Homo sapiens: one gene and its partners. The protein of the gene in region 3 interacts with the protein of the main gene of each other region in a biochemical or structural test. Each region holds a gene or a part of one and is shown on either strand. Other genes may lie near its edges.

Region 1 (7,000 bases), on a different chromosome or scaffold from region 3:
AGACTGACACAGGTGTACATTTTAGATAACGTTGGCAGTCTGGATTTGAGGGTGAGTGATCTACATATAAGGATCCTATTTCAGTTGTCTTTTCAGAAATTCTGAGGGCCTGAACTAGCTGGTACAGTACAGTAGGGGTTGGATTCAAAGAAATATAGAAGGGAAAATAGACCGACTTCGTTAATGAATTGGCAGGAAGAAAGGGGGATCAATTATGATGCCAGTTTTCTGGGTGGATATTGGTAAATTAACTGAGATGAGGAACACATCAAGAAAGCAGTCAGATATTTGAATATGAAACTCAGGCTGAGTCAGAGCTGAGACTAGAGATTTGGGAAGCATCACCTTAGAGGTACTATAATGAAAGCCTGTGATTATATATCCTACAATAATAAGAATTAAGACATCATGTGATTGGCCATTGGCAGCTATCTTCCCATAACCATTTGTATTCAAATGGGGAGCTAAACTTAAGTGTTCTCAGCAGGGGGTTTGGTTTGACTGGAATGATGATGCTTCATTGTCAGTTCAGTATGCATTTTGTTGTGTACAGTGTTTTATTTTGTGATTTGAGTGTGTCTGTGTGTGTGTGAGGGAGAGACAGACACACATACTATAGAGTCTAAATGAAATCTGTCATTAATCTCTTAGTTTATACATTTGAATTTTTTGGACCCTGTTATAATGGGGTTATGCTAAAGTAAATATAGAAAGTAGATAAGCTTTCTCAAGGGGAGTGTGTAATTCTAAGTAAGTTATTAAATGTTTCCAAATCTCCATTTTCTCAAGTATAAAATGGGAATGGCAGTTCATAACTTTCTTGACTGTTTATTAGGATTAGAGTTAGTAACAACTGGTATATCTATCATGTACGCAATACATGGTACATATTATTGGATAGATAACTATGTTATGTACTTAGATATATTATGTTCTATATGTATATAATGTTATGTCATAGATAGTAAGAAAAGGATTTCCTAGCAGTTGAAAAAAATATATTTTGCAAAAATATCTATAAAATGTTCATCAGCCTTCAACATTTTTATTAGTCTATTTCTAATATATGAATGCCTCATATCAATATTAGAATAGTAAAAAATGTCAGAAGTTATATAACATTACCAATATGTTTAATGTGCCTTTTTATTAAATTTCTCATTCTTTTTTTTTTTTTTTTTTTTTTGAGATGGAGTCTCGCTCTGTCGCCAGGTGGAGTGCAGTGGCTCGCTGCAACCTCGACCTCCTGGGTTCAAGTGATTCTCCTGCCTCAGCCTCCCAAGTAGCTGGGACTACAGGCGTGTGCCACCACGCCCGGCTAATTTTTGTATTTTTAGTAGAGACGGGGTTTCACCATGTTGGCCAGGATGGTCTCGATCTCTTGACCTCATGATCCGCCCACCTCAGCCTCCCAAGGTGCTGGGATTACAAGCATGAGCCACTGCACCCGGCCATATTTCTCATTACATTTTTAAAAGACCTTATCTTACCTTATTCTCAGAGACCAATTGCATATTTTAATGGAAGATGATAACTGTTATGCTCCCAGGCAGTTATTTCATTTACTTCTCCTAGTAAGCTTTATTTTCCCCTATTTAACAAATGAAGAAACAGATTCAAAGAGGATAAGTACATTTTCTAGTCAACTTGTAATTATAAGAACCAGAATTAGTAGCCTGTAATCTTTCTAATATGTTCCTCTTTTCTCTTTTAAACTGTTAAACTGTATTATTTTTCAAATGTAGTTTCTCAGTTTGAACACCAGCTGGTTTAAAGTAATTACTTTAAAGTAATTAGGTGACCAGACTAGAAAATGGGATGCAGAATCTGGTTCTAGTTTTAGTTCTGACATTAGCCCGCAGAATATGATCTTTCAGAAAACAGAATCTTTGTAGGACTTTAATTATTTAATCTCTTCAATGGAAGGCTCCTTCTAGATATGAAAAACTGTATATTGATAGAAGGAGTACGAATTTCATCCTGAGTTATTACTTCTTAGCATTCTGCAGATTAATTTTTAGAACTCATTACATTTTGTTGCCAAGAAATCATGGATTTTTAAAAAAATTATACCTTGTAGGATTCAATTCAGCTAACATTATTGTGTGCAATTTCCAGTTTCTGAATTAGATGCGGAGTATATAGATATGAATAGGATAATCTACCCTGCAGGAATTTATGGTCTGTGGTAGATTATGTGACTCTCACTGATACACTGACATGGAAGAAGCTTAATTTTTCTTCCTTTTTTTTATTTTTTGGAGGTGAAATAGAGGAAAAGAGAGGGAAAAATTTAGTGATCAGATTGGAAAATAGCTCACACAGTATAGTTTTTTTTATAAAGCAGAAATATAGACATCATATAAAATACTATGCTTGGTATTGGAAGGATATTTGCAAAATAAATTATAAAGCCTCTCACCTTAAGGAGTTTCAGTCTTATTGAATGAAACAATACTCATTTTAAAAAATTAGCTAATAGATTAAAGTCAATAAAGAAAGCATTATATAATTTCCAACATTAATAGCACCAATGGGAGTACATTCGGGATTCCAAGTTGGAAGAAATTAAGCTGGAGTGACTGGCAGATATTTTATGGAAAAGATAGAATTGGAAACTAATTTTATATTGTTGGAGAAGAAAAATAATAATACTTTGAGTAAATAATGTAATATACATGGCATATTCCAGAATAGCAAAGAGATCTCTCTGGTAAGAGCAGAGATTTCACATTGAGAAGTTGTGGGTGGTATTGTTGTAGAGATTGGTTGGAGCTAGATTGTAGATGATTTTCGCGTCCAGCTGAATTGGCAATGATGAATACTAAAACTTTGAACAAGAGATAACAGGATGAAAACAATTTTAGTCTGCCAGAGATACATAATAGTCAATAGTGGCTGCAATCAGAAAAACAACATCAGCAAAATACTGTAGGGATGAGAATGATGAGTGCTAGACACATCTGATGAGGATCTCATGTAGATGGTGGAAGTCACAATGATGAAGAAAGAAAAGATGGATGAAATGGGTTAAAAAGAAAACCGTATAGACTTGATGATTCAGTATGCATTTATTAAATGTTTGCCTTTTGTAAGGACATATGCAAGGTTCTGTGGATGAATTTAAAGTAAATAAGAATGATGATAAAGACAAATCAGCAATGACTAGGTGATTTGAAACCTATATGATGTGGAAAATATTGGCGCTGCCATATGATTGAATGGTAGGATAGACTACTACTTTTCAATAGAGAGTAATTTTAACTTCGTAGATTTAAAGTGATGGGATTAAAATGTTTGGTAAGACATCACAAATATGGAACTGATGTCAATTCCAGTAGGGGACAGGAATAAAAGGATATAACTATGGGAGTCATTATTCCAAAGAAGATAGTTGAAAATAGTTGAAGCCGTGAGAATTGTTGCAGTCTTTTTTTTTTTTTTTTTTTTTTGAGACTGAGTCTTGCTTTGTCGCCCAGGCTGGAGTGCAGTGGCGCGATCTCAGCTCACTGCAAGCTCCGCCGCCTCCTCACTCCATTGTCCTACCTCAGCCTCCTGAGTAGCTGGGACTACAGGCGCTTGCTACCACGCCCGGCTAATTTTTTTTTTTTTTTTTTTTTTGTATTTTTAGTAGAGATGGGGTTTCACTGTGTTAGCCAGGATGGTCTCGATCTCCTGACCTCGTGATCCACCTGCCTCGGCCTCCCAAAGTGCTGGGATTACAGGCGTGAGCCACCGCACCTGGCGAATTGTTGCAGTCTTTAAGGAAGAATGTCTTGAAGGAGAAAAACAGGGTCAAGAAATGTGGGATAGTTAAAGGAGAATGCTTAGAATGCAGAAAATGAGTAAGGGAGCATTAGGAAAGTCAAGAGAAACAGAGGTTGTACACAGTGGAAACTATGATAGGTAAGAGGATCAATATGGAGGGATAATTAGTTGCAACAGAGAGGTACCTAGGGAATGAAGATAAAGACAAATTTAACTGTGAGAACATATTTGGTAATCTTTGAGAATGAAGTTTTAGTAGAATAATAGGAAAGAAAATAGACTGCAGAAGAAAGTAGGCTTCAAGATAACTTTCTGGCATATCACTTAATTGCAGCTTGTTAACACCATCTACCAACTTCCTGTCACTGAACTTGGCGCTTAGTTCACCATCTAGCTCACCATCTTCCCTCATGTGATTTCAATATCCGTATGGATAATCTCTTTGTCACCTCATCTTTATTACAGAGATCTTTTCCCCCAGTGATCTTATTCTCTGTTCTGTTGCACCTATCTACTTTTGTAGTACTTATTATTAGATGAAATTGCTGCATCTACGAAACTGTTTCACGCATCCTGTTTTCTAAATGCCAGTTCCTGTATTTCTAGCTGAGTTGTTTAACTGTTCCTACTGTAACTGTTAACTTTATCTGGCCCTACAGACCAATAATCCCTTTATTTTATCCCTATACTTTAGCCTTTTATTCTCTCATTTTCTTCCTATCCAGTTTAGACTCTGTTTCATTTTAATAACTCTTATCAATACCTTAAATTCTTTTGCTCTTCTTTGATTTTTTTGTTGCACCTTCCTGATGCCACCCCAACCCTGGATGAACTCAGTATGCTTTCTCTTTATCTGTGCTTGGTGTGACAAGAAAAATCTCGAGTACAGATTAGTACCACTATAAATTCATAACCACTACCTGTCTCCCCATGCCATCAACACATCCTGGCAACTCTAATATCTTCTGTGGTCAGTTTACTCCTTCACGAAGACTGTTCCAATCTTTGATTATCCTCAAATCTTTCCATATTTTTGCTCTTACTTTTAGCAGATGATGTCATGTGATTTTTCATAAAGAAAATAAAACCCATTAAATGAGAATTACCTCAGCCTCCTAACCCCAAAGTTGTATGCTTACCTGAAAATGCACATAATCTCTCCTCCAGTGTTGCAATGGAAGGAGATAGGTCTCCAGCTCTCTTTAAGGTTGAGTCCCTCCACCTGTCTCTCTGGTTTCCATTTCCTGCCTCCTTCTCATTGTGTATCCCTTTTGTTCCTTTATTACCAGTTTCTTCCCTGAACTGGCTCACTTGAGTATTTACATATGTTCTGGTTAATCTAACCTTAAACAAAGAAAAAGGAAAGATCCCTTCTTTGATTCCATTTATTCCTGTAGCTTCCTGCCAGTCGTTCTCTTCCCCTTGACAGTCAAAGTTTAAAAAGAGTTGTCTACTTGCTTCATACCCACTCCTCAGCAACTTCTTTCCCCTACCACACTGCTCTTATTAAAGCCATCAGTGATCTTCACAGCACTGTTTTCAGTGTACATTTTTAATCCTTATCCTATTTGGCATCTCAGAAACTTTTAGTATAATTGCCCAATTTTCTTAAAATCCTCTGTTCCTTTGGCTTAACATTGCATCAGAAGCAATGGTTTTCTTCCTACGACTCTAAGAATAATGGAAGGCCACTGCAATGTTTTAAGCAGGGAAAGATCAGTTTTAGTGTGCTGAGTAAATTGAAAGGTAGAAGATATGATTGGAGAAAAAAATCAGTCATGAAGCTATTGTAGTATTCTAAGCCAGAGATGATGTTTGCTTGGAGTAGAGTGGTAACAGTTGATTTGGAGAGAATTGAACAGATGAAAGGAAATTTAGGAGACAATATCAACAGGATTTTGTGATCACTGAATATAAGGAATAAGAAAGGAGGATTTATCTATTCTGACTTAAGGCACCTAAGGTAGATGAGATGCTATTTAGCAAAGAAAACCCTGCAGAAGATGGAACTTGGGGGGATTAGGATGGGCAGAGATCTGCTGGCCATGTTGAATTTTAGGAACGTTTGAGATTCTGAATGAAAATGTTAAAAGGGAATTTGGATGTATAAGCCTAAATTTCAAAGAAGCCACAGATAGAAATATTGAAATTGTTCATGCGTAAGTGATAATTTAATTGAAGTTATGCATTGAGAAGAAAGCATCTAACAAAAGAGTACAGAATAGGAAGAGAAGGATTCTTTCTAAGCTTTGGTAAACTCCCAACATTTGAAAGTTGATTCAAAAGTATGAGTTGGCAAAGAAGACTGAGGAGCCACTACAGAGGCTACTGTTACTCTTTTGATTTTTAAAAATCAATTAAAATATAAGAATGCACAGAAACAGAGTGGGCCAGATTAGGCCCAGAGGCTACAGCTTACTGACCCTTTTTTCCTGATGAGCCTGGTGCTTAACTTAAAACAGACACTTGGTAAATTTTTGTGTAATGACTTAATATTGAATATGTTCTTATCCAGGTCAAATGTGCTTTTCTTGTGGTGCAGGGAGGTAATAAAGGTAGATTTTTCCTCTTAAAACCCTGAAAGCAAGAATTCATCCTTTTCTTTGGGTTTATTCTCTTTAGAAGTTAACTTTTAATTTATTAAAAGTCAGTGTGTGACCAGCCTGGACAACATAGCAAAACTTTGCCTCTATAAAAAATACAAAAATTAGCCGGGTTTGGTGGCGTGCATCTGTGGTCTCAGCTACTTGAGAAGCTGAGGTAGAAGGATAGCTTGAGCCCAGGAGGTGGAGATTGCAGTGAGCCAAGATTGTACACCTACACTCCAGTCTGGATGACAGAGCCGGGCCCTGTCTCAACAGCAACAATAACAAAATGTCAATGTAATATTTTGACCCACTCTCACGTGTCCAAAAGACTTTTAAATTTTTGTAAGGATATAATAATGTTATTCGGGCTGCAGAAAGGTAAACCAAATTTCTACGGATACATAGAATTTTGGGTATTGATTTTTATTAATACCTGAGAGTTTTAAAAACATACCTTTATGCTTTTGAGAATCCTAATTATTATCGTTATTATTTGCCCTTGAACTTTTGTATTTATTTGATCTTAGTTATCTAAGACCATGCTAGGTCTATGGTATATGGATGCTGCACTCATATTGGTAGAATATAATATGAGAGACAGTCTATAGACAAACATATTAATATATGATGACAATCTATGATAT
Region 2 (7,000 bases), on a different chromosome or scaffold from region 3:
CTTCCCTTTTTTAAACAAAAAAGACTTATTTCTTACAGTGCTAGCATTAAGTATAAGTAGGTATGATTCTACACAAAATGAAAGTTGGATTCCTTTGGTTCCATTTCTTGGGTAACAAGTTGAATAAATTGGGATAGTATTGATCTTTCTGATAACAAATAAAAGGACATGTGAATTATATCAGTTAATGGATATACACAATTCTTAATTCTAAAATGCTGCCTATAGAACTTTAGAAACACTTAAACTAATACAGCACTCAACTTATTTTTTCTTAGAACAACATAGTAATATTGTTCCTGTGAGAAGCCCTTTTTTAGGTCTTTCTGCTCTGTTATTCAGATGTATACAGGGTATAAATAAAGTTTATGACCAAATTGCACCACTTGTGATAAGCAGGATTCACACAATTACATTCACCACTCCTTAGGGAGGACCCATTACCATGGGCATACATAGTATTCACTATAAATGCATTTAGAATAGTCTTTGGCTTAGTATGTGCTAACCAAATTCAGAAATATAAAATAAAATTTGCATAAACATTAAGGGGAAAAAAAAAGAATAATACAATGAATTGTGATGACCTATCTGGCCTTTCTTCTTTGAAATGCAGAAACTCCACCAAACACCTCTTTTGGTCAAATGGTCCCTGGTCCCCTTTAGTTTCCAGGCTCTCCCATATAAGGTGGCTAAAAGTTAAATTTGAGTATCTTAGCTTAGAAGATAGTTCATTCAATTCAAAATGCATTTCTTGAGATGATAAAAAAATATATACGTAAAGTAAAAAATGACTAAGGTGTTCATGAAGCAATACGATAAGTAGAATATCTAGGGATGATGGATAGGGAGTTGATTTTAAACTAAACAACCACCAAAAAGCTATATTAGTGTTTCGTGTGTACATGTGTAAATGTACCTTTCATTTCACAACTTATTTTTAAATAAGTAAAAAAAGAGAAAAAAATTTATTTTTATCTAAAGATTTATCTTTTCCTAAAGATTATTTCTTCTTTTAAACAGATTTTTTATGCTGGTCTACCCTCATCAAGTGCTTCACATAAAATCCCCTTATCCCAAATTGAGTAGAAAATATAGACAGGGCAGGGAATAAAAGACCACTGTATTGACATTTAAAGCTTAGTATCTTTTCTAATATTAAAGTCTGTTGGTGAGTTTTGTTTGGGAAAGGGATCATTTTCTAAACCATATGTGGGGAAAAAAAAACCACCCAAACAGCCTTTCCTTGCCCTTTGTCTTACCTCACTGAGCTTGAGTCCCTTGGGACTCCACACTTCCTTTGGTAGCAATTTTGAGAAATTAATGCTATAACTTCTAATCCAGTATACTGGGTACCAGCATTTCCCTCCCTGAATCCTTCCTTCTAAGTTTCACCACTCCCAAGGGAGGGACTCATTATTATGGGCAGCTACAGCATTACTGATAGCCCTAAAATCATTTCCACAGACTAAAGGTAGAGATGTCAAGTCAGGATAGAAGATTAAATTTAACTACAACAGAGAAAAAGTGAATGGAGAGGAGAGAAATTAGTAATTGACATTGTCATTCTATTTACACACCAACCTAATAAACTAGTTAAACATCAAGTTAATGTCTGCCCAGAGGATATCACAATTTACCAACATAAAAGATTAAAAACAAGCAGCAACTTTCATATAAAATTAATAAAGACAAATGAAAAAGAAATTGTCAGTAGCATCTATCTCCTCGATGTGTCTGAACTGCACGTTATCAACTAGTCCATTAGTACAGCAGCTTGCTAAAAATTGACTTTGGTTCAAGCTTAGTTAAAAAACAAAACAAAACATAAAAAAACACACCACACAAAAAGGGTGAATGGACATTTGTTAGTTTCCCTGCTTGCAGTTCACTGATTTTGGAAGGATTTTAGGGAAGGTGAAGGGTAAGAGGAGGAAATTTAGGGGTGGTAATTAAATATCTGTGAAATAAAACACGATAGAAATAAACTAAAAGAAATATTTTAAAGGGGACTAAAATGTTTCTGACCTTTTAACAGACTGTCTCCCACTTGAATCACACACAAAAGTACACATTGTGTCTGTATTTACTGCCTTACTGGACAATGGGAAAGAGACAAGTACACAGAATCCAAGCTCCCTTGTGGACACAAACAAAAGCAATCAGAATAAAAATCACCTGTAAGTTCTCTCTACATCCCCAGCTCGAAAGGGAGAAAAAGTGCAGTCTTGGGACCACCAGAGATTTAAGCAAGCACCCACAGCCACCAAATGGGAACCTTTAACTCCAATAAGAAGGGGAACTTAGATGAGCTGCACTGCAGTGATCCAGTCTTTTGGAAAATTTTTTGGTACAGATGGCATAACAACAGTACACTGACAAAAAAAGGAATTTAATCTCCAAGTTACCCTTATTCCTCTTCATCCACTTTCACAAACTCTTCCTTTTCAATGGGCTCATTTATATAGTCTACAAACACCCTGAAAATAATTACAGAGCTAATTACTTTCTACATTGAATAAAGAGATGTGTATTGCCATTTAGACCTACCTAGCAGGAGCATCATGAACAAACCAAGGAGACACTTAAGGTGTGTGCAAAGTTCCTGCTCAAAGTCCTTCTTCAAAGGTTCTACAGATCCCAGCCCGGCTAATAAGTGCCTCCTTTAGTCAGAGAACCAAGAAGAATCTCAGGGTTAGAGGAATTTATAAACCATCCAGTGGAAAGGAAGTCTGTGGCTCTCTAGAGGAAAAGGTGGTAACCTTATACCCTTCTCATCACACCTCTTTTGTATATATTATCAATGGAAAATAGTCTAGTAGAATTCCTTTAGAAAATAAAAGAAGGGAAAAGTTTCCCAATTTCAGTAAGTCAGTTTTTTTTCTTTGCCAAGTTAGTTAAAGTTTGGATGAAAAACTTCCACAAAATGGAACAAACAAACAAACACACCAACAGCAGGAGCATTTTTCAGGAGATAAGAAATCAGGAGAACCACCAAGTCAGGTGTCTGCAGTAGTCTTTGCTCTTGGGAACCAAATCCTGCCCTGCAACATGTACAGCTGTTCCCATTGAAAGTAGCAGAAAGCAGCACTGTTGCACCACAGGAACTGGGCCTCAGGGTCATTCAATGATTTGGGGGTGAGTGAGAGCTACAGTTCAGCAGGAATTCCTTCCTACACAAAAGTGCTCCAAAGGCACCACCTGATGTGGGGAGGGGAAGGGGCGTGTGTGGAATGGGAGTGTTTGCACACACTGCCTTCAGCTTCTGCACCAAGCCTCTTGCATAAGTGGCAAAAGAAAATAATTTTCTAGCACCTCTGTAAGAGTCATCAAGGATAAGGAAACCAGCAAGAACATTCCCCACAGTTAAGAACAGAAGTCTCCCCTTACCCCAAAACCCTCCCTCCCCACAGTGTGGGAGCTCACTGAAATAGGATCCAGGAGCAAGAGATAATAAACATGTCCAAACTATATATATAAAACAATAACAACAACAACAATAATAATACAGTAATACAGGCCTGCCTAAATTGTACCAGTTAAGAAAGGAACCCCCAACACAATTGATACGATTATAAACACCTTGTTATGACTTAATGGCCTGTACAACAGACCCATAAAAATGATTTTTTTTTTTTAAGAAAAAAAGAAATTTAGACAAACAAGAAATCCCCTTCCTATATTGGAATTGGTAACCCACCTTAACTTGTCATCATGACTGCTGGAAATGATAAGTAGTCCTTTCACTTATTTTTGTTTGTTTTTGATTTTTTTGTTTCTTTTTTTTTTTTTTTTTTTAATTTTTGGTTAGAAAGTTCTCCAATCCATGAAGCAATCCTGAAAAGACAGTGTTTTATTACAAAATTAGGCAAATGTTCCGTCTCCATCCTTTCTTTCTTTTTCTGGTATGTGTGTATGGGTGTGTGTGGTTTTTTTTTTTTTTTCTCCCTTCTCTCCTTTGCCCTCACAACACGGCGAGAGGAAGCCAATCACATTTTTCAGTTTATTAACCTGGCTGGCAGTCCAATCACACTGCAGAGTGAAAAAGGCTTCTGGCAGCCCAGCTCTGCCCAGCTCACTGTGCCTTGGAGGCGGTGGTGGTGGTGGACGCAGCCCCGCTGGCAGAGGCCACTGTGAAGAGAGAGTTCTGGATGGACTCAGCAGAGGTGGAGGTGGCGTGAAGGCTGGCTACAGGTGCAGAGTTCCCTGCAGATGCTGCGGCGGCAGAGACCAAGCTAACAGGGTTGCTGGTGAGCAGAGAGAGGTTCTGAGGGTTCAGGAACAGAGGGGCAGTCACGATGTTGGGGGCTCCTCCCGCATTGGCAAATACCAGGTTCCCAGTTGCATCAAGTGATGTTATTGGAAGAGAGCCACCAGAAGCAAGAGCTACAGACAAAAACCCCCCAAAACAGGCAGGAATGAAAACATTAACATCATCCTGGAGAAGCCAAATAACACATCAAAAGTCTATCATTTTCCTACAACCCACCAGGAAAAAGTATAGCCCTTCACTGAATTTTTTTCCTCAAACACAGTGCTATATTGATACCAATTGTAGTTTATTTTTAATTTTGAAGAGCCTAAAAGACTGAAATGTCTAATTTAATGGGCACAAGCAGGGGTAGAAGACAGCTAATAACTGTCTAATGAATTAGAGTCATGTTCGTGTCTTGAAATCACCAGTTTATTTCATTTACCTAGACATATTTGATAAATCCAATAATTTTGTCTTTAATGAAGACTGCTGATTTTAAACTACCTCTGTTCAAAGGACAAACTAGCTGAAGTGATTAAAGCATTAACAACAGGAGGTGAGTGGTGGGCATTACAGCCTGAGGCCTGCCTCCTGTTAGATCAGTGGCGGCATTAGATTCTCATAGAGCACGATCTGAGGTGGAAACAGTGTCATCCAGAAACCACGCCACCACAATGTGGCTATGGAAAAACTGTCTTCCAGAAAACCAGTCCCTGGTGCCAAAAAGGTTGGGGACCACTGCTTTATATTATGATATACAAGATGAAAATCATCTTGCAAAAAGGCTTTAGTTCTAAAATAAATTATGTATCACCAAATAAAGTTAAAAGGTATAATTAATTTCTCACTTCCTGAGGCTAAATACTTGATTTCTATGACTTGTGCAAAGGAGAATGATGAATCTATTGTAGCAGGAAATTAGACATAATGATGTAGGTGGGTGATCTAAGTCTAGGATGTGCTTTAATGGGTGAGAAATTTTCTATGATGCTGTTGCTTCCCCAAAGAAGGCATCATCAACATTTTATTTAAAATAATCGAGACTCTCATTTAGTATCTCAACCTGTTGTCTGGCAACATTCCTAAATCTCTCTAGCCATATAACCTCACTCCTACATGTAGATTTGAGGGATTTTCTAACGGCATTACACATTTGATTTCTTACATAAAATATAGCTGAAGGGAATGCCTCTGACTTTGGCCTTGCTCATACAAATAGTACAGAACAGTGAGACAGTGCAGCTTGAAGTTTTTCTGAGATTCCAAACTTAGTATCTTTTCAGAGTGTCAATCATGCCCTAGGGAAGACATTTTGCCTTTGTAGTATCAACACAGCACAGAAACATTCAATAAAGCAGAAGAAAAAGTGATTTATCACAAATTCTATTGCAAAAAAAAATTATTATATAACAAAAGCTTTAGAGCTAACCAATTCAGGTATGATTTAGTCAATCAGAAAGTCAATATAATGTAAGGTAATCTAGGCCATGGTTTGGTTTTGTCTGTAATTAACATTCTCTAGTACACTGTTAGAGATATTACCTGTGAAATATTAATCTTAATTTAGGTTGGCTAATAGTTATTTTTGGCCCTGAGAATTCTCATTTATGCACAAAACACTTTAATTTTTTTTTTTTTTTTTTAGAAACAGGGTCTTACTGTGTTACCCACGCTGGGGTGCAATGGTTATTCACAGGCATGATCATAGCACACTGCAGTCTTGAACTCATGGCCTCAAGTGATCCTCCTGCCTCAGCCTCTTAGCAAAACTATTTTAAGAAAAAAATTCTAATTAATTAGTGATGTCTCTCAAATTGTCTCCCTGAATCACATAACAGTAAACATTTTTAGACAGAAAGCTTAGGTACTAAACAAGTGGAACCCTTCAGTATATGGAATGAATATTGCCCTGGGTAACATGCTAAAAGGCAAAAGGAACCCAGCTGAGCTTGGAAAAGAGACATTATAATCCAAGAGAATATATGTTCTACACTAACGGCGATATAAAAAGAGCAGAACTTAATGAGAATTAAAAGCACTCCTGAGGTCCACCTGATGTGTTCCAATGTTTGTTCATTACAGGACTTTCCCATGCACAGCTTTCTCAGGAGTGCAGCTGGGAACTGGAGAGTCTTACTTGGTCAAGTTTGCCTAGAGACGGGTTTTAGATTAATACTTGGGATAAACTTATCAGGGGAAAAAAATCTGGCTTCAAGTCTACTCACATAAGATCAATATTAGCATGAAAGTTCTGGTTTTTTACCATATACCAAACTAAGTATATTTCCTGCTTTTACTCACATACTAACACCTATACTTTTCTTACAAAGCTTTTTTACGAGGACATTTTCTTAGTTCTCAAGAACAAGTTAGTCAGCATTTGACTCTTTCCCATCACTTTTACCTCTAGCAAAGCAGACTTCCTCTATCTCTGTCTCAAGCACACACACACACACACACACACACACTCACACACACGTGCATGCCACCAAATTAAGAAAAAGGCTTCTACTGACCTTGAATAGTTGCCAGTGTACTGTTGCTCATTAGAGCTGGGCTGAGAGCACCGCTCAGGGTCCCTGGATTCAGACTGAGTAAGGCACCTCTGCAAGTCCAAAAGAGGAGTCACTTTATTACCATGCAGACGCAGGTCTCATTTTGACAACACACCAAAAGGAACTTACAAAACGAAAATCCAGCTGGGGAAATAGGTGGAAATATTTATTTTTCTTTACTCTTCTATGG
Region 3 (7,109 bases):
ACATCCCTCTCCTCCATCCGAGGGAAGCAGACCCTGGGAAATGGGTAATTCTCCCTCCTGGCCCCGTCAACAGATGTTGCCCTGGGTGGGGTGAGGCAAGGGAAAGCAGGCCGACTGCTGAGGGGCACCAAGGTGGTGGCAAGAGGCATGGGGATGGAGGGCTCCAGTTGCCCGGGCCTCCCCTGTGCCAAGCTCTGGTCTGGGTGCTTTCCAGGACTTCCTGTCTGAAATCGCACAGCTCGTTGTTGAGGTAGGCAGTTCACAGGCGAGTAAACAGATGCTTAGAGAGGTTAAGTGACTTGCGTAAGGTCACCCAGAGTGGCAGAGCTGAGATTTGACCCTTCCGACTTCTGGTTCTTTCTCCCATCTTCGTGGCTCAGAAAGCTCTCACCTTTTTCTCTAGGTGTGTGACTCTGGGGTGTAACGCGTGGGCAGCTAGGGATGCTGATGCTGGAGAAGGGATCCTGGCACCTTCTGAGGGTGAGAGCGGCCCCAGTGGGCAGGAGTGTGGGGCTGGTTGCAGGTGCTCTAGCCCCCTACCCCTTTTTCTGCTGTGCTTAGGCTAGGCTCCATATATTGGAGGTGTGGGCCTGTGGTTTTCTCTCTCTCAGGGGAGGGTGCCCGTGGGCAGTGGAGGTGGCTGGCATAGGGTGGAGGTTGGATGTGGGTAGTTTGTTTTCCCTCTCTTTGGTACTGGTTTCGATTCTCTGCCGAGGCCTTCTCCACCCCTGGGGTGTAGGGGGCTGGGGCCCAGGTGTCTCTCTGAGGGTCATAGCTTCTGATGGACCTTCTGAGGCAGAGTCTGTGCCCTTTTGGGCCCACCCTGGTCATCCCTACCCTTGCCCATCCCTGTTCTCTGGTCTTTCTGGCCCTTGGCCTATTTCTGTGACCTTTAGCCCTCCTGCGGCTCAAGGCCCTCCCCAGGGAGCTGAGTAAATTTGCACTGAAATTTGCAGGCAGAGCTGGGTTAGGCTTTTTGGAGGCTCTGATAGGGGTCTGGGGAGGCCTTCCAGCCTTGCCCTGTAGTGTGTGTGGGTGGTGGGCTGGGGGTGAGGTGGGGGTAGTGGGGATTGAAGTTTGATTCAATTTCAAACTCCACTGGGGCAGAGTTGAGGTGGCTGTGGTTTTCTCTTCTCTGGGAGCAAGGGTGGGTTCCAGAGGGTCCAGGCTGGACTGACTAAACTGGCCTCCCGACCCCCAAAGGCTGGGTCAGGATGCCTGAGATCTGGAGTGATGGCTTTCTGGGCCTCAGCGTGGGTTACAGAGGCCTCACTTTGGGTTAGCTGCCCCTTGGGCCTCACCTTGAGAGAGGCAGGCCTCTGTGGATGTGAATTCACCTGAGTGTTTGTGGACCTGGTGCATGGGCTGGGCCCACAGGGAGGACCTCAGAGCATCTTCTGGCAGAAGCAGCAGGTACAAGGGCCACCCTGGCTGTGTGAGGTTCGGAGAATGTACAGTTTGGGAGACTGTGGGGCTGTGGTTGTGTCTTTGGGGAGCTGTGTACTGGGGCCCATGCATGCAGTTTCTGAGCTGTGTTCATTGTGTGGTGGAGCCCAGGTGTGGAGAGATGGTATCTCCAGGTTCCTTCTCCTCACATGCATGCCTGCACACACACAGGCTGGGGCTGCAGGCGTGCTCTTGCCCACCCAGATGTTTTCTGTAGACCTGCATGCATGAGTTTGTATGTGTATTTGTGTGTGAGGGTCCAACTGTAGGAACTGATGAGGTTCTGCCAGCCTCTTCTTCCCTTGCATGGCTCCCCCAGCTCCAGTTCCCGTTGTGTGGGGCCCCACAGGAGTTGGGAGGGGGCCAGGGCGGCAACTGGTCCAGTGGGTGGGGCCCCTGTTCCTCTGACATCAGCCCTCTCAGCCTAGGAGGGAATTGGCAGGGGCCTGGGGTAGGAAGGGAGCTCTTTATTCAGGAGTGAGGAGAGAGGCCCTATGATTGTCATAATGAGTAACAGTAAAAATCGTGGTTATTAGCAAGGTCCAGATTTTACTCCTGGGGCAGCCTCCCCTCCCTAGCCCAGTACCTGTCCCCTCCCACCCTCTCTCCCTCAGTTCCACACAGGCTGGCTGGCTCAGCTGGGCCAGAATTCCTGGCCTCTTCCACAGTGGCCTTGGCAGGAACTCCCCCTTCCCAGGCCTGGTCTTCAACCAAATGCTGGCCATGTGCTTGTCCCCTGGACTCCAGATTTGAGGCTAGAGTCTGGAGTTCAGAGCTTGGAACCTAGTGTAGCCTGAGCTTGGGGTGGAGTGGCAAGGTATAGGGGGTGTTGGAAATGGACAGTCCTTATTTTGAGTCTCTGTGGCCCTGTTTCTTTTCTTTCTTTCCTCTTCTTTTTAAAACAGCTTTATTGAGATATAATTCACATACCATAAAATTTACCCATTAAAGTGTACAATTCAGTGGTTTTAGTATATTCAGAGTTGTGCAACTACCACCACAATCAATTTTAGAACACTTTCATCACCCCAGAAAGAGCCCCCATACCCAGCAACAGTCACTTCCCATATTCCTCAAATCCACGCCCCAGCTCCTGGTAACCACAAGTCTGCTTTCTGTCTCTATAAATGTGCCTATCCTGGATATTTCATATAAATGGAATCCTACAATACATGGTCTTTGTAACCGGTATAATGTTTTCAAGGAATATCCATATCATAGTATCAGTACTTCATTCTTTTTTTGGCAGAATAATGTTCCATTGTAGGGACATACAACATTTTATTTATTCGTCAGTTGATGGACTTTTGGGTTGATTCCACTTTTTGACTATTAGGAATAACGCTGCTGTGAATGTTCATGTATAAGTCTTTCTGTGGACTTACGTTGTCATATCTCTTGGGTAGATACCTAGGAGTAGAATTGCTGGGTCATATGCCATCGCTGTGTTTAACCTTTTGAGGAACTGCCAAACTGTTTTCCAAAACAGCTATTCTATTTTACATTCCCACCAGCAATATATGAGGATTCCAATTTCTCCACATCCTCGCCAGTACTTGTTATTATCTGTCTTTCTTATTAGAGCTAGCCTAGTGGGTATGAAGTGGTATCTCATTGTGCTTTTTTTTTTTTTGAGATGGAGTCTCACTCTGTTGCCCAGGCTGAAGTGCAGTGACACAATCTCGGCTCACTGCCTCCCAGGTTCAAGCAATTCTCGTGCATCAGCCTCCTGAGTAGCTGGGATTACAGGCATGTGCCACCACGCCTGGATAACTTTTGTATTTGTGTGTGTGTTTTTTTTTTTTTGGAGACGGAGTCTTGCTCTGTTACCCATGCTGGAGTGCAATGGTGTGATCTCAGCTCACTGCAACCTCCACCTCCCTGGTTCAAGCGATTCTCCTGCCTCAGCCTCCCAAGTAGCTGGGATTACAGGCACCTGCCACCATGCGCAGCTAATTTTTTAGTAGATTTTTGTATTTTTTAGTAGAGATGGGGTTTCGGCATGTTGGTCAGGCTGGTCTCAAACTCCTGACCTCAGGTGATCCACCTGCCTCAGCCTCCCAAAGTGCTGGGATTATAGGTGTGAGCCACCGCACCCAACTGACTTTCGTATTTTTAGTAGAGACAGGATTTTGCCATGTTGGCCAGGCTGGTCTTGAACTCCTGACTTAGGTGATCTACCTGCCTTAGCCTCCCAAAGTGGTGGGATTACAGGCGTGAGCCACCGCCCCCAGCCTCATTGTGCTTTTGATTGGCCATGTTTCTTTTTGTCTGTCTCTTTTCTTTTGTCTTTCATATATGTATTTTTCATATATAAATACATGCATATGTATTTATATATAACCTGTACCCAAAATGGATTTGAAACATCCTCTTGTCCTCGTATGGATATGTTCTTCGTGTTCTCTCTCTTTGCTCTTGTTGCTGCCTATCTGTCTCACTGTGTTATGGAATCTCTGGGTTCATCTCTGTCTCTGTCTCTACCCCATGGTATTATCTGTGCATATCCTCTGGTGCCAGCTGTTCAAACAGGGTGTGGATCTGTATTCACACTGGTGAAGGGGGCATCTGGCCTTTCATCTTCTGCCCACCTCCCACCCCAGTTCATGTGTTTTGCTTCTGCAGACAGAAGTATGTGGGTGAACCTTGAGATCAATCTCTCCTTCATTGCCTGGGGGTAGGAGGCTTCCTGGGCGGTCCTTGCCCTCCTACACATCGCCTACCCCTGGACCATCCATGCTGTTAAGCATTGGAGGTGATACCTAGGAGTCCTTGGTTCCCATTTTCCTATTAGTGTGTACGTAAATGGGCCTCCTCCCAGGGCCTGTGGGACAAACCCGTCTGGGGTGCTGGGGCTTGGATCTGGGGGGGAAGTGGTGTAAGAGGGGCCCCCTGGCTTAGGAGTCATTTTTCTGAGAAGTGCCAATGCTTTAGGGAAGCGGCTTTTCCTCCCCCTCCCTCTTCCCCCCCAGCACACGTTCTCTGCATCTTGACCTCAGGTAACCCTCACTGGGGGAAGGAGGGCCAGCTGCCCGTTTCTGCTGCAGTGATCCCTTGAGGTGGCACTGTGGACCCTTTCCCCTCAGGACTGTGGGTGAGAGGCCCTCCAAGGTTCTGGGCTCTGTCCCTGTCTCCCCAGCCTGGCTGTGCTATCTGCCACCCCCAGCAGTGTCTGGGCCCTGCTTCCAGGTCATCTCTGCCAGCCAGGCATGGTGCCAGCTGTCTGCTCAGCTGGGTGCCACGGGAAAATCTCCGGCAGCCCAGGTTGGGGAGCTCCACGGGGAATGCCTGTGTGCCTGTTCTTCAGTGCCCACTCACCTGTCTTTCTTTTTTCTGCAGCATCACAGGACATGGCCCCCTCAGCCACCTAGCTGGGGCCCATCTAGGAGTGGCATCTTTTTTGGTGCCCTGAAGGCCAGCTCTGGACCTTCCCAGGAAAAGTGCCAGCTCACAGAACTGCTTGACCAAAGGACCGGCTCTTGAGACATCCCCCAACCCACCTGGCCCCCAGCTAGGGTGGGGGCTCCAGGAGACTGAGATTAGCCTGCCCTCTTTGGACAGCAGCTCCAGGACAGGGCGGGTGGGCTGACCACCCAAACCCCATCTGGGCCCAGGCCCCATGCCCCGAGGAGGGGTGGTCTGAAGCCCACCAGAGCCCCCTGCCAGACTGTCTGCCTCCCTTCTGACTGTGGCCGCTTGGCATGGCCAGCAACAGCAGCTCCTGCCCGACACCTGGGGGCGGGCACCTCAATGGGTACCCGGTGCCTCCCTACGCCTTCTTCTTCCCCCCTATGCTGGGTGGACTCTCCCCGCCAGGCGCTCTGACCACTCTCCAGCACCAGCTTCCAGTTAGTGGATATAGCACACCATCCCCAGCCAGTAAGTCTGGGTGTGGGGGCTGGGGTGGGAAGGGACTGTGGAGGGTGGCAGGCCTCAGAGCTTGGGCTCTGGGCACGTCTGTTCTGCTGTGAGTGGAAGGCACGGTGAGCGACAAGGTCTTCTCCAGTTGGGGTGACCATCATTTGAGGTCTTAAAAATGAAAGCCCTATGGCCTATAGGCTGATCATGGTGGTTGTGTTTGAAGTTGGGGGTGGCAGAGGGGGAGATGAAACCATGCTGTTCTGGCCTGCAGTGGCCCTCGCACCCCTCTTCTGTGCTCTGCTGTTGGGGCCTTATAAATAGCTCCAAGGACTGGACACACAGGTTGGAGGTGGGTAAACAAACCTCTTGACATTTGATGGAAATGGCAGCTCTACCTAGAGTGAGAGCAGCACACCACCTACGCCCCACCCCCACTCAGTGCCTCTGAGGGAAAGGGCTTGAAGGAGCAGACCGAGGAAGGCTGGCTGGAACCCCACCTCTCCCCCTGCCAGCTCCACCCCCGGCCATGCTAGGATGTGCTTCCCTTTGTGGGGAGGATGAGAGGGAGGGGCCCACGGTCTAGCTGGGTGGATAGGGTGAGTGTCCCAGGAGGGGACACTTGGCCTGGACTCTGGCCTCGGACGCATGCATGGTCTTGGCAGGGCCTGTGTTTTCCTTGCCTCCACCCTCTGCCATGGAGGTCACTTGTTGGCTGGGCAGGGGTCTCAGTACCCTTCGCCGGCTGGCCGAGCCAGGTAGTGGGAGGTGGCGGCAGCTCTGGCCAGCTGGCAGAGTCCAGGGCTGGGGCCTGCCAGGCCGCTTACAGTAACTCTGGCCCCCAGGGCCCAGCTGGGCGCCAGGCCAGGGCTGGGGGGAGGAGGGAGCCGGGGCCTGGCCTGGGACGGGAGAGGGTGGAAGCAGCAGAATGGGCCATGGGCTGCTGGCTGGCCGGCTGGTCAGCTGCTGACCTGGGAAACGTGTCCCCACCTCTCCTGGCCAGCAGGGACTGCACACCTTGCCCTGTGCACCCACCACCCCTCTCACGGCTGCTGGCAAGCTGCCTGGCACCACTGCCCTATGTGCCTGGCTGGGCTGGGTCAGTGCCCCCTTCTCAGTGTGGGGGCAGCGCTCTCTCCCCGGAGCCAGGGAGTCTCTTTGTCCCTGGGGCAGGCCCTGGCTGGGCGCCTCACTGCCCGCACTGGCTGGGTGCCCACCACCACCACTGCTTCCTGGATCGCCTCCTCTGGCTTAGCTGTGGCCCCCTCCCTCCCAGGCTCCACCAGCCACCAGGAGCAGGGACTCTATGTCTGTGTTTCTTTGTGTTCCCCGCCCTTTATGCCCTGGGGCCAGGGGGCAGGCAGGTGCTGCCTCAGTTTCTCCTGCCACCCCTTATCAAACCTTCATCTTCTGTTTCTGCTGTCTCTTCTCTCCACCTCATATAGGAGTATGGGATGGATGGAGTCTGGGGACTCTGATTCTGGTCTGGTCCTATAGTCTGTGTTAGTGATGGGGAGAGGCCAGCCTCTGGGGTTTGGGGCTACTAGGGAATGCATTGGTGTATCTTTGTAGAATATTCACTGCATTTAAAGGGACTGTGATTTACATTCTGGACTTGGATCACTGGAACTAGAAGACTGTCTGCTTCCTGACAGGGTAGGGTTTTATTTTTATTTATTTATTTATTTTTTTGAGACAGAGTCTTGCTCTGTCACCGAGGCTGGAGTGCAGTGGTGCGATCTCGGCTCACTGCAACTTCCGCCTTCCGGAATCAAGCAACTCTTCCGCTTCGGCCTCCCATGTAG

The links.
Region 1: the proteins of RARA (region 3) and LRIF1 form a complex in vitro, tested with the Homo sapiens proteins (one study listed by BioGRID).
Region 2: the proteins of RARA (region 3) and POU2F1 form a complex in vitro, tested with the Homo sapiens proteins (one study listed by BioGRID).

The regions. Positions count from the first base shown.
Region 1 is NC_000001.11:110,953,923-110,960,922, reverse strand, and holds part of LRIF1 (ligand-dependent nuclear receptor-interacting factor 1), read left to right. Parts: intron 1-7,000. UniProt on the Homo sapiens protein: Together with SMCHD1, involved in chromosome X inactivation in females by promoting the compaction of heterochromatin.
Region 2 is NC_000001.11:167,412,886-167,419,885, reverse strand, and holds part of POU2F1 (POU domain, class 2, transcription factor 1), read right to left. Parts: intron 6,861-7,000; coding exon 6,772-6,860; intron 6,025-6,771; coding exon of another isoform or gene 6,008-6,024; exon of another isoform or gene 4,387-6,007; coding exon 4,076-4,386; 3' UTR 1-4,075. UniProt on the Homo sapiens protein: Transcription factor that binds to the octamer motif (5'-ATTTGCAT-3') and activates the promoters of the genes for some small nuclear RNAs (snRNA) and of genes such as those for histone H2B and immunoglobulins.
Region 3 is NC_000017.11:40,326,072-40,333,180, forward strand, and holds part of RARA (retinoic acid receptor alpha), read left to right. Parts: exon of another isoform or gene 1-1,413; intron 1,414-4,480; exon of another isoform or gene 4,481-4,540; intron 4,541-4,785; 5' UTR 4,786-5,147; coding exon 5,148-5,325; intron 5,326-7,109. UniProt on the Homo sapiens protein: Receptor for retinoic acid. Retinoic acid receptors bind as heterodimers to their target response elements in response to their ligands, all-trans or 9-cis retinoic acid, and regulate gene expression in various biological processes.